Regions from separate parts of the Homo sapiens genome. Here all the other regions are linked to region 1. Evidence: fine-mapped expression QTL. A gene starts in region 1. Each other region holds a variant in brackets. All regions are shown on one strand. Distances are from middle to middle.

Region 1 (2,764 bases):
AATGTGGGTGAGGGAGTGGGTGAGGATGGGGAGTGCTGGGTTGGGAAGTTTCAGGAGTGAATATCAGCTGAGGTGGGGATGCCCTGGCTCCCAACACAATTAGCTTCATTCTGCTACAGTTGGGGGTTTTCTTATCATTAGTCGGGAAGGCCTAGCCAGAGAATTCCAGTATTCCAGAGCAAGTTTAATTGTGGGTGATTTCATTCTGCCCTTTTTATGTCGCAGCCAGGGGCTTGCGTCATATAACAGTGAATTCAGGGAGATTTTTATTTGCATGTGAATCATAGCTTTTCCAGCTGAATGTCACTTACTTGGAATTTTTGTCTGATTTTGTTTTTGTTTTTGTCTCTTGGTGTTTTTCCATCGGGCTCTTTGGCTAACCAGAAAAAAAAAAAATAGAGGAAGGGCTCAATCTGACTGAAACAGGGTTTGAGTTGGCAACTCAAAAGGAGAGTATTATGAATGTGAAAAAAAGAAAACGGATGCTTTATTTTGCTTTGAGGGAGGGACCGAAGCCAAGTCAAATTGAGAGCTCTAATTTGGGAATAGTGTTATTACAGGTCATTGGGAGTTGGTTACGCGCTAAATTGGGAGGCCAGTCACATGAGGAGGCAGCAGAGGCAGATCACATGGGGGACAGTTGGGGCCCTTTTATAATGAAATTTTGTTTTATTTACTACACAGTTGAAATGTACTTATGTCATTTTGAGAAACCAAGTCACCTTATTGGCTGGGAGTTGCTCCCTGCCCTGGCCCATCAGTTGTTTGATAAATAAGCCAGTTCTTCCAATCTTTGTGCTTTCCGGGGCTTGATTTTGGCAGTGGGATCTGTGCAGTGATTCATGGAGCTGACCCTGTGATAGGGGTTATACATCTGCCCTTCCCCTGACTGACTCCAAGGGGCTTGATCTCTTCTCCTCCAAAGGCTCTACCCATTTTAGACCTCAAGGTCAAGACATACAGAAAACTTCTAACATTATATAAAGAAGTGATGACCTTTGTTTTTTAGATTATCTTCCATTTTCTCAGCACTGTTCCTCTTAATGTCATCTTGCAAAATAAGAAAGAGAAAAGATGGATCCTGCCCCTCCATGGGCAGTTATGAACCAAGTATTTCTTCTTACCTCAAAACTGCAGACTTTGGATGTTCTTGGCATCTCGGGGAGGACCAGGAAGGGTGGTGTGTGGTCAGCTGCTGATTTTCCTTGAAGAATCAAAGTTGGCATTCTTGGTGTCCACAGCCCTGATTAGTTAGCTGTGTTTGAAATAAAAACAAACAAAAAAAGGCAGCCAAAAAACAATATCTAGAATTCAGTTAATTCATTCCCACTGCAAACAAGTTGTGCTCATGCTCCTAAATGGGGTATGTTACTAAGCCGGTGACACAGAGCATCTGGGCCGGCGATGCTTGTGATCGAGGTTAGGAATAGAAGGTGTGTGGAAACTTTCTATAAAAGGCAGCCAGGTCCCCTGGACAAGGGGTCAGGAAGCTTCAGCACTGTTCACGGTGGCACCAGGGCATTACTGCATGATTTGGGGCAAGTGTCTCTGCGCCTTGGTGTCCCCTAAGTGCCGTATTGATTTGGGGGAATGGGAGGGTAAGGGCCTCAAGAAATGTTTGAGATGTAAAATGTTAAATGTTTGAGATGTGACATGTAAGATAAGTGGAGGGAGCGTGATGTCACAGGAGCTCAAATCAGGGCCACGTGTCCCTGAATGGGGCTGGGCTGCTGTCCCTTCTCAGGCATCACCCTCTGTGGCTGATGCCTCTGACATCATAATACCCAGCCAGACACTCAATAATGATGAGCTGTGCCCAGTGGACACCTGAGGAGGGAAGAAAAGGAGAAGGACAAAGTGGAGAGGGAGGAGATGGAGCAATCTCTTATGTGATCATTCCATCAACTCACAAATTTTTCACCTAACACCTGGTTCAACTGTAATGTGCTCAGCTCCGTATAACCTGGACAGCAGCTGTGCCCTCACCCCTAAACTCAGCAAAATATTATGGTCCTCTAATCAAGAGAATTTTGCTCCTGTTACTGCATGTCTTGTGGGTTCATCGTCAGACCAGTGAGTTGATACCAAACTTCACCAAACGGTTCTCCGGAGCAACCGTTTAGAGGTAACGTACTGGCTCTCACGCCCAGGCTTCTCTGGGCTTCTGCAGACTCATCTCAACTCTCCTCCTTGGAGCAGCACATAACTGGGGATTGTGTGGGGGTGGTTTGTGAGGGTGTGAGCCTGTGGTAAAGATGCTTTAAAACTGAAATTCTCACCTTCGTTTGATTCATGAGCCAGCACAGGCTTGGCCAGACTTTGTTTATTCTTATGGCACTCTTCAAACCCAAACGGGCCAAATCGTGGCTTCCCTGTCTATCCTTAGATGCAGCGATTGCTGCTTTTAACTGGGTAGGTTGCTATGAATAGAAAACTTGAGAGATCAGCCCTGTCTTAGAAATATTATGACATTTTGCTTATTTATTGTTGACTTAAAAAAAAATCCAACAACTTCCTCTAAAAATAGGTCCTTGCCACTCTTTCAACTGCTTCCTCCTAGCCTTTCTCCTGGTAAGAAATCATGGTTCCCACCTGGTTTCACATCAGCCTTACTCGATCCTCCAAATGCTATCAATTGGAGGCCATGATTTTCTTGGGTTCTCAAATGTGAACCTGGATCAAAATCATCAGGGGGCTGGTTAAACACAGTTTTTGATTCAGTAGATCTATAGAGAGGGTCCCAGAAGTCGTAATTCTTTTTTTT
Region 2 (2,764 bases), 3.9 kb after region 1:
TCTAGCAAGGCTGTGTGATCAGCACTAACCTGGGTGAGGGAGTAGGAGACACAGAAGTGGATGGACTGTCCCCACCCACAAGGAGGGGTGAAGTGGGGGGGGTGTTATACAGATATGCAAGTCACTGAGCTCAATTGTGGTAGAGAAAAGGCAATGAGGGCCCAAATGGGTAAATGGCATTTGGGGAGAGAGGTGGATTCTTAAACTACATCACAGATGATGATAGGAGCAGGAGGGGGAGGGTTCAGATGTGTCCAAGACATATCTACAGCAGAGAGTATGTAATGATAAATAATAGTGATCTCTTTTGAGATTCAAACAGCCAGAGGTTAAGTCTCCACTGGTATAGTGATAATAGACTAAGCTCTTTTTTTTTTTCTGCCAAATAATGTGTTGAGTCCTGGCTGGAGGGCCTAGGAGTACTTTAGAAGATGGATTCTACTCCTTACAGTGTTGCCTGTTGGTTCTAGAAATGGAGCCCTTCTCCAAGTATTTCTCTACCCCATTGGTCTGATTCTCCCCAAGTTATTTGTGTTACAGACACTTCTATGGGTACAAAACTTTCCCTTTGGCTATCTCTGATACCACAAATGTCATTGAAAAGGACAGATCCTAGCACTAGGCCATATACATTGATAGGAACCAAAGACAGATATCTGATAGATTAATAAATACAACCACTTCCAAAGGTGATGGTATGAAGCTAGATTCAAACAACACAGTAGGCCAGTGCTGTCACTCCCAGCTCAGAACCATTGTGGCTAGAAGTTAGCTTTGTCTTTCTCCTCACTGAGCCATGTGTCTCAGACCCTGGGGTAGAGTTGAGGGAGGGCAGACAATGGTTAGTTTCCAAACTCCCTGGACATAGGGGCCCCTTGCTGCCTTCTGCCTTCCTCCATAGAGTTTAGAAGGTTTGTTTCCAGGAAGGAGCTCCTTCCTGCCAGGTTTGTCCTCTCTCCAGCTTCTCAGCAGTGCAGGGTGCTTACAACACAGCCCACAGGCCTGCCTGCACTGGGCTGTGTGGGTCTGTAGACAAGGTTCTCAACTCTGCCTCTGCGTCTGCTCCTCTCCGTCCTACTGGGCCTTTCTGCTCCCCCTTACCTTTCCCTGCCTGAGCCCTCTCACTGTTTTTGTGCCTGCCTTTGTTGTAGAATTCTAGATGGCAGCATGCTTGCAACTTGGGAAGGATGAGGCCCTTGTCTGGAGACATTATCCCTATGAGCTCTGAGGTCTTGTCTCCTTCTGTAGCATCCCCACCAATGTGGCCAAAGCCAAGGGCCCTCATCTGATCAGTCCTCCTGATTCTGGTCCAGCCACTGAGCCCTAGGTCTACTCAATTTCATGGCAGGATACCCAGAAGGAGGGAAATGGCCTCAGCCATTCTCATTCCTATTTAGAGAAGTGCATTCTTCACCATCATCCTTCCTACCTTTTCTTCTTACCCACTGCCCAAGGACTTCAGCAATGAAAAAGTAGCTTCCCTTCTCAAAAAAAAAAAAAAAAAAAAAAAAAATCTGAAAAATCTTATTCTGATTGCATCAATAGACCTACTAACCTGAAAATGAGTTTGGTGCACAAGTAACAGGTGAAAATCAGCAGCCTTTTACTGCTTACTGTTGCAGAAATTCCCAGCATTGGCTGGCGGCTGGAGGGGAAGCAGGAAGGGA[G/A]GTGTGCCTCTAGCTCCCTCTACAGGGCTGTGCCCCAGGAGGACAGGAGAGCCAGGCTGAATATGTTCCAGGGTCACCCAACTCTGTCCTTGTACAGTTAGCCAGGCCTTTCTTTCCAAAAAGAGTATCAGTTAATTTGTGACTATGGACTCGAATATCCTGCCTCCACAAAATTGTTCATTCTGTCCCCCATTGGATGACTTGTACGTGTATTTCATATTTCATACCTAAATGAGTGATACATACATTTTACTATCAACATTGCTAACATGCATATTTTGGGAATATCTACATGCTGTTCCTTGGTGACAATATTTACATGGTTACACACCACACCACAGGGCTCTTACATTCACACTTACACTTTGGATCCCATCTCTTGAGTTGGGAAATTTTGTCTATAAGTTGTTGAGCAACTTCCTCGTTATTTTAGAAAGCGTGGGACCCAGTGACTTCACAGTTCACAGTCATGTAAAGATATAGAATGGCTCCCTGGTGTCAGGGGTGGGATGTGTGCACTCCAGCCCTTCCCAGACTTCCTGAGGTGTATAAACCTGTTGTGTGGCATGGCTGTTGTTCCGTTTGCTCCACTGAATTAAGCATGAACTATTCTTTTGTGATTCAGTCTGTTTATACTCCTCCCAAGATACTCCTCTGTTGACTGTCTGGACATTGCCAAGGATGCTGGCCTTGGAGTTCTTTGTAAAATATTATTGCAGTTAGGTTACGTGGACAATGCCGTGCTCCTTTTGGGACTCTCATGTCTAGAGCCTCTTGTGCAACAGGGGCTAAATCTAAGTGTAGAAGCAGAAAGCACACTTTTCTCCTTTGCAAGGTCAGCATGAGGATTGCTAATTCATTATTTTAAGGTACTATTGGAGTGTCACTCTGTGGTGTGTGGGGTTTTGGCAGTGGTGGTCTGGAGTGTGAGGGCGGCGCTGAAGATTAGAGAGTGGGAAAGCTTCCTGTGTTTAGAACACTTCCAGCCTCTCCTCTGAGGGGTTTTTGGTGTAAAAAACTAGTCGAGTGTGGTTTACAAGAATGTGTCTTGTGTTTGTCGAGTGAGGTAACATTTTTTTCATCTCTAATTTATATAA
Region 3 (2,764 bases), 9.7 kb after region 1:
CTGTGCTCCAGCCTGGTGACGGAGTGAGACTCCATCTCAGAAAAAAAAAAAAAAAAAAAAGAAAAAGAAAATAGGGGGAGGGTTTATATCTTTTCAATCCTTTGTACCTTTTCAAAACACTACTTGCAGCTGTAAGGGCTCATAACTCCAGACTGGGTTCCCCATCACAACTGGTCTAATCCATACCACTAGCAGGGCTCCCACCAAATTATGGGGATTCTTCTCTGGTCACCTCTAGCTCAAGAGGGTACCTTGGGAGACAAACTCAAGTGCAGGTGCCAACACAAGAATCCCACCATTTGCCATGTTGGTATTTTTGCCCTGATTTTTCAGGTGCCCTGGGCTGAAAAATATCTCTACAAATAAATACATGGTGTGTGTGGTTATCCACTTTTGAGTTGTGCAGAGTTGCACTATATTTAGAAGCTTTTAGTACATGATGTGTCTAGGATTGACTTTGTAACATTCTTCCAAGGAGTCTTTGACCATGTAAAACCCACCAATATTCCTGCCTTTTAGCACATTTATTTCACCAGTACTTCTTCTGTGTGTGCATTTAATTCCTAGCCATTTCTTGCATGAGCAAATTGCCTAAATGCGCTTGTGAGAAACCCTTTTATGGCAAACGTTATTAAACTGAAAACAAGGGTATAATAAAATAGCAATTTAAGAGTAATTTACTAACAACTAGAGCCCTTAAGCATTGACATACCATTGTGTAGCAATAATACCAGACTTGGTATTTAAACACACTCTTTGTCACTCCAAAAATCATTGGGACAGTTTCCTAATCCTCATGGTCTTTAATTATAGCTCTTCTAATTTTTTTTACTACTCCTATGTCACTGGTTTACAAATTATAAATCATTAACTTTTATCCACATTAAACATCCATGTAATAGAACTGTTACATCTCTGCTCCTTATACAGAGAAATAACAAAGAAAATATTCAGAAAACATAGTAGAGGTGAGCTGACATCATCAAACCTTGAAGTTCTTGCACTTAAGTTTTCCACTGTGTCCTGAATCAGGTGATATTGGGGTGAGTAATGGTAGAGACTGGATCTCAGAAGTGATCAATTAATTGAAAATTCTGAGGATTCCTGCATCTTCCCCAGGGAGGAGAATTTGTCAAATGCAAATCTCAGCAAAGATTCTTTGCTCTCTGGAAGATAGTGTGGATGCCACAGAGGCCAGTGGGCAGTTGGACAGGACCTAGCCAGTGTGACCAAGTCCCTGCATGTAGGGTCTGGCTTCCGTTTGAAGGTAGAGATGTTCACGCTTGTCAGCACCCTGGGGATACTCTCCTGAAAGACTGACTCATGCTAACTAGAAAGCAGGGAGGTAGACACTGCAATGCTGGCTGGTTAATTTGCCACGAGGAGCCATCATCAGAGAGACCAGACGTACTCCAAGTCCATATAATCAGCACACATTGTCCTTGTCGGCAGGCCTCCACAGGAAGCCAAATCATAATCAGAAATTATGTATTAAGTTGCCCTGACAAATCATTATCACAGATTTTGGAAATACCTCAAGTCTCT[A/G]TGATCAGTTCATTCTCTCCTTGAGGGTAGCTGGGGAGCTAAATCATGGTCCAAAGGTTGTTTTGTGAGTGGATAATCAGGACGGGGGCGCTGAGGAAGGGAAATGTTTAGTGGCAACGGGAACTTCATGGGTCCATGCCAGAATGGGAATGGCTTTGCCAGAAAGACTGATGTATTCAAAACCAAGTGGCTAAAACTTCCTTTTACCTAGAGGGACAGTTGGATAGTGTATTAATTAACTTAGCAGCTTAAAACAATAAACATGTTACACAGTTTCTGTGGGTCAGAAATATGAGAGATTCTGGCTTAGGATTCCTCAAAATGGTATGTGGGCTGCAGTTGTCCAAAGGCTTATCTGGGCTAGGAGATCTGCTTCCAAGATGGTTCCCTCATATGGCTGGCAACTTGGTGCTAGGTATTGGCACGAGGCCTCGGTTCCTCACTACAAGGACCTCCCCATTGGGTTGCTTGCATGATGTCACAACATGGCAGCTGGCTTTCCCCAGAGTGAGTACTCGGAGACAGCAAGGGGAGGCCATAATGCCTTTTATAACCTAATCCATAAAGTCACATACCGCCATTTCCCCTACATTCTATTTACTGAAAGTGACTCACTGAATCCAACCTGCACTCAGAAGGAAGGGAATTAGGCTCCACCTTTCAAAGAGGTGTGTCAAATAAATAGTTAACATATTTTAAACCACAATAGGTATAACTTACATTGTCTCTGTAACTCCTTTTTATTATACTTCTGTTGCTCACCAACTGTGATTATCCATGTACTCTATTAATACATTTATATAATGTTTATAACTATTACATATTTGTATGCATTTATATGTAATTCTGTATCATATAACTATAGAACATCTAATTATGTTATAAATATCAATATATTTGGCTTATGGCCACGCTGTTGTAGCAGGACAGCCATTATGTATCTAATATCAAATTTGCCTACCTCCATTCTGCCACTTCACTAGCAGGGGGCTGGGGGCAAGTAACTTGGCCCATTTGTGCCCCTGTGCCTTCATCTGTAAAAGAAGGCTAGTAATAGGACCTACCTCATAAGCTTCTTGGGAGGATTAAGTGAGTAATTAAATGCACAGGGCTTAGAAGAGTGCCTGGCACTTCGAAAACATTCAATACTGTTGGCTCTCAGCAGTGGCAGCTGGAGTAGTAGCAGAAATAGTTTGATCCAGTAGGTGTAGTTAGCCCT

Evidence for each region. PIP is the estimated chance that this variant, and not a neighbour inherited with it, causes the effect. A credible set is the group of variants that fine-mapping cannot tell apart.
Region 2: its variant is the best candidate, but not a certain one, in a credible set for the expression of SAMD4A-AS1 in whole blood (INTERVAL, PIP 0.70).
Region 3: its variant is the best candidate, but not a certain one, in a credible set for the expression of SAMD4A-AS1 in whole blood (INTERVAL, PIP 0.58).

Annotation. Positions count from the first base shown.
Region 1 is chr14:54,686,176-54,688,939 of GRCh38, forward strand. It overlaps SAMD4A-AS1 (SAMD4A antisense RNA 1), which reads right to left and starts at 1,735. Exons shown (of 3, transcript NR_187163.1): 1 at 1,125-1,735. The region is part of intron 2 of SAMD4A (sterile alpha motif domain containing 4A); the gene reads left to right.
Region 2 is chr14:54,690,063-54,692,826 of GRCh38, forward strand. All of the region lies in intron 2 of SAMD4A (sterile alpha motif domain containing 4A), which reads left to right. Among named protein-coding and RNA genes, the nearest start is that of SAMD4A-AS1, 3.5 kb to the left of the region's middle. The variant G/A (reference allele first, on the strand shown) is at 1,668.
Region 3 is chr14:54,695,914-54,698,677 of GRCh38, forward strand. The region is part of intron 2 of SAMD4A (sterile alpha motif domain containing 4A); the gene reads left to right. Among named protein-coding and RNA genes, the nearest start is that of SAMD4A-AS1, 9.4 kb to the left of the region's middle. The variant A/G (reference allele first, on the strand shown) is at 1,546.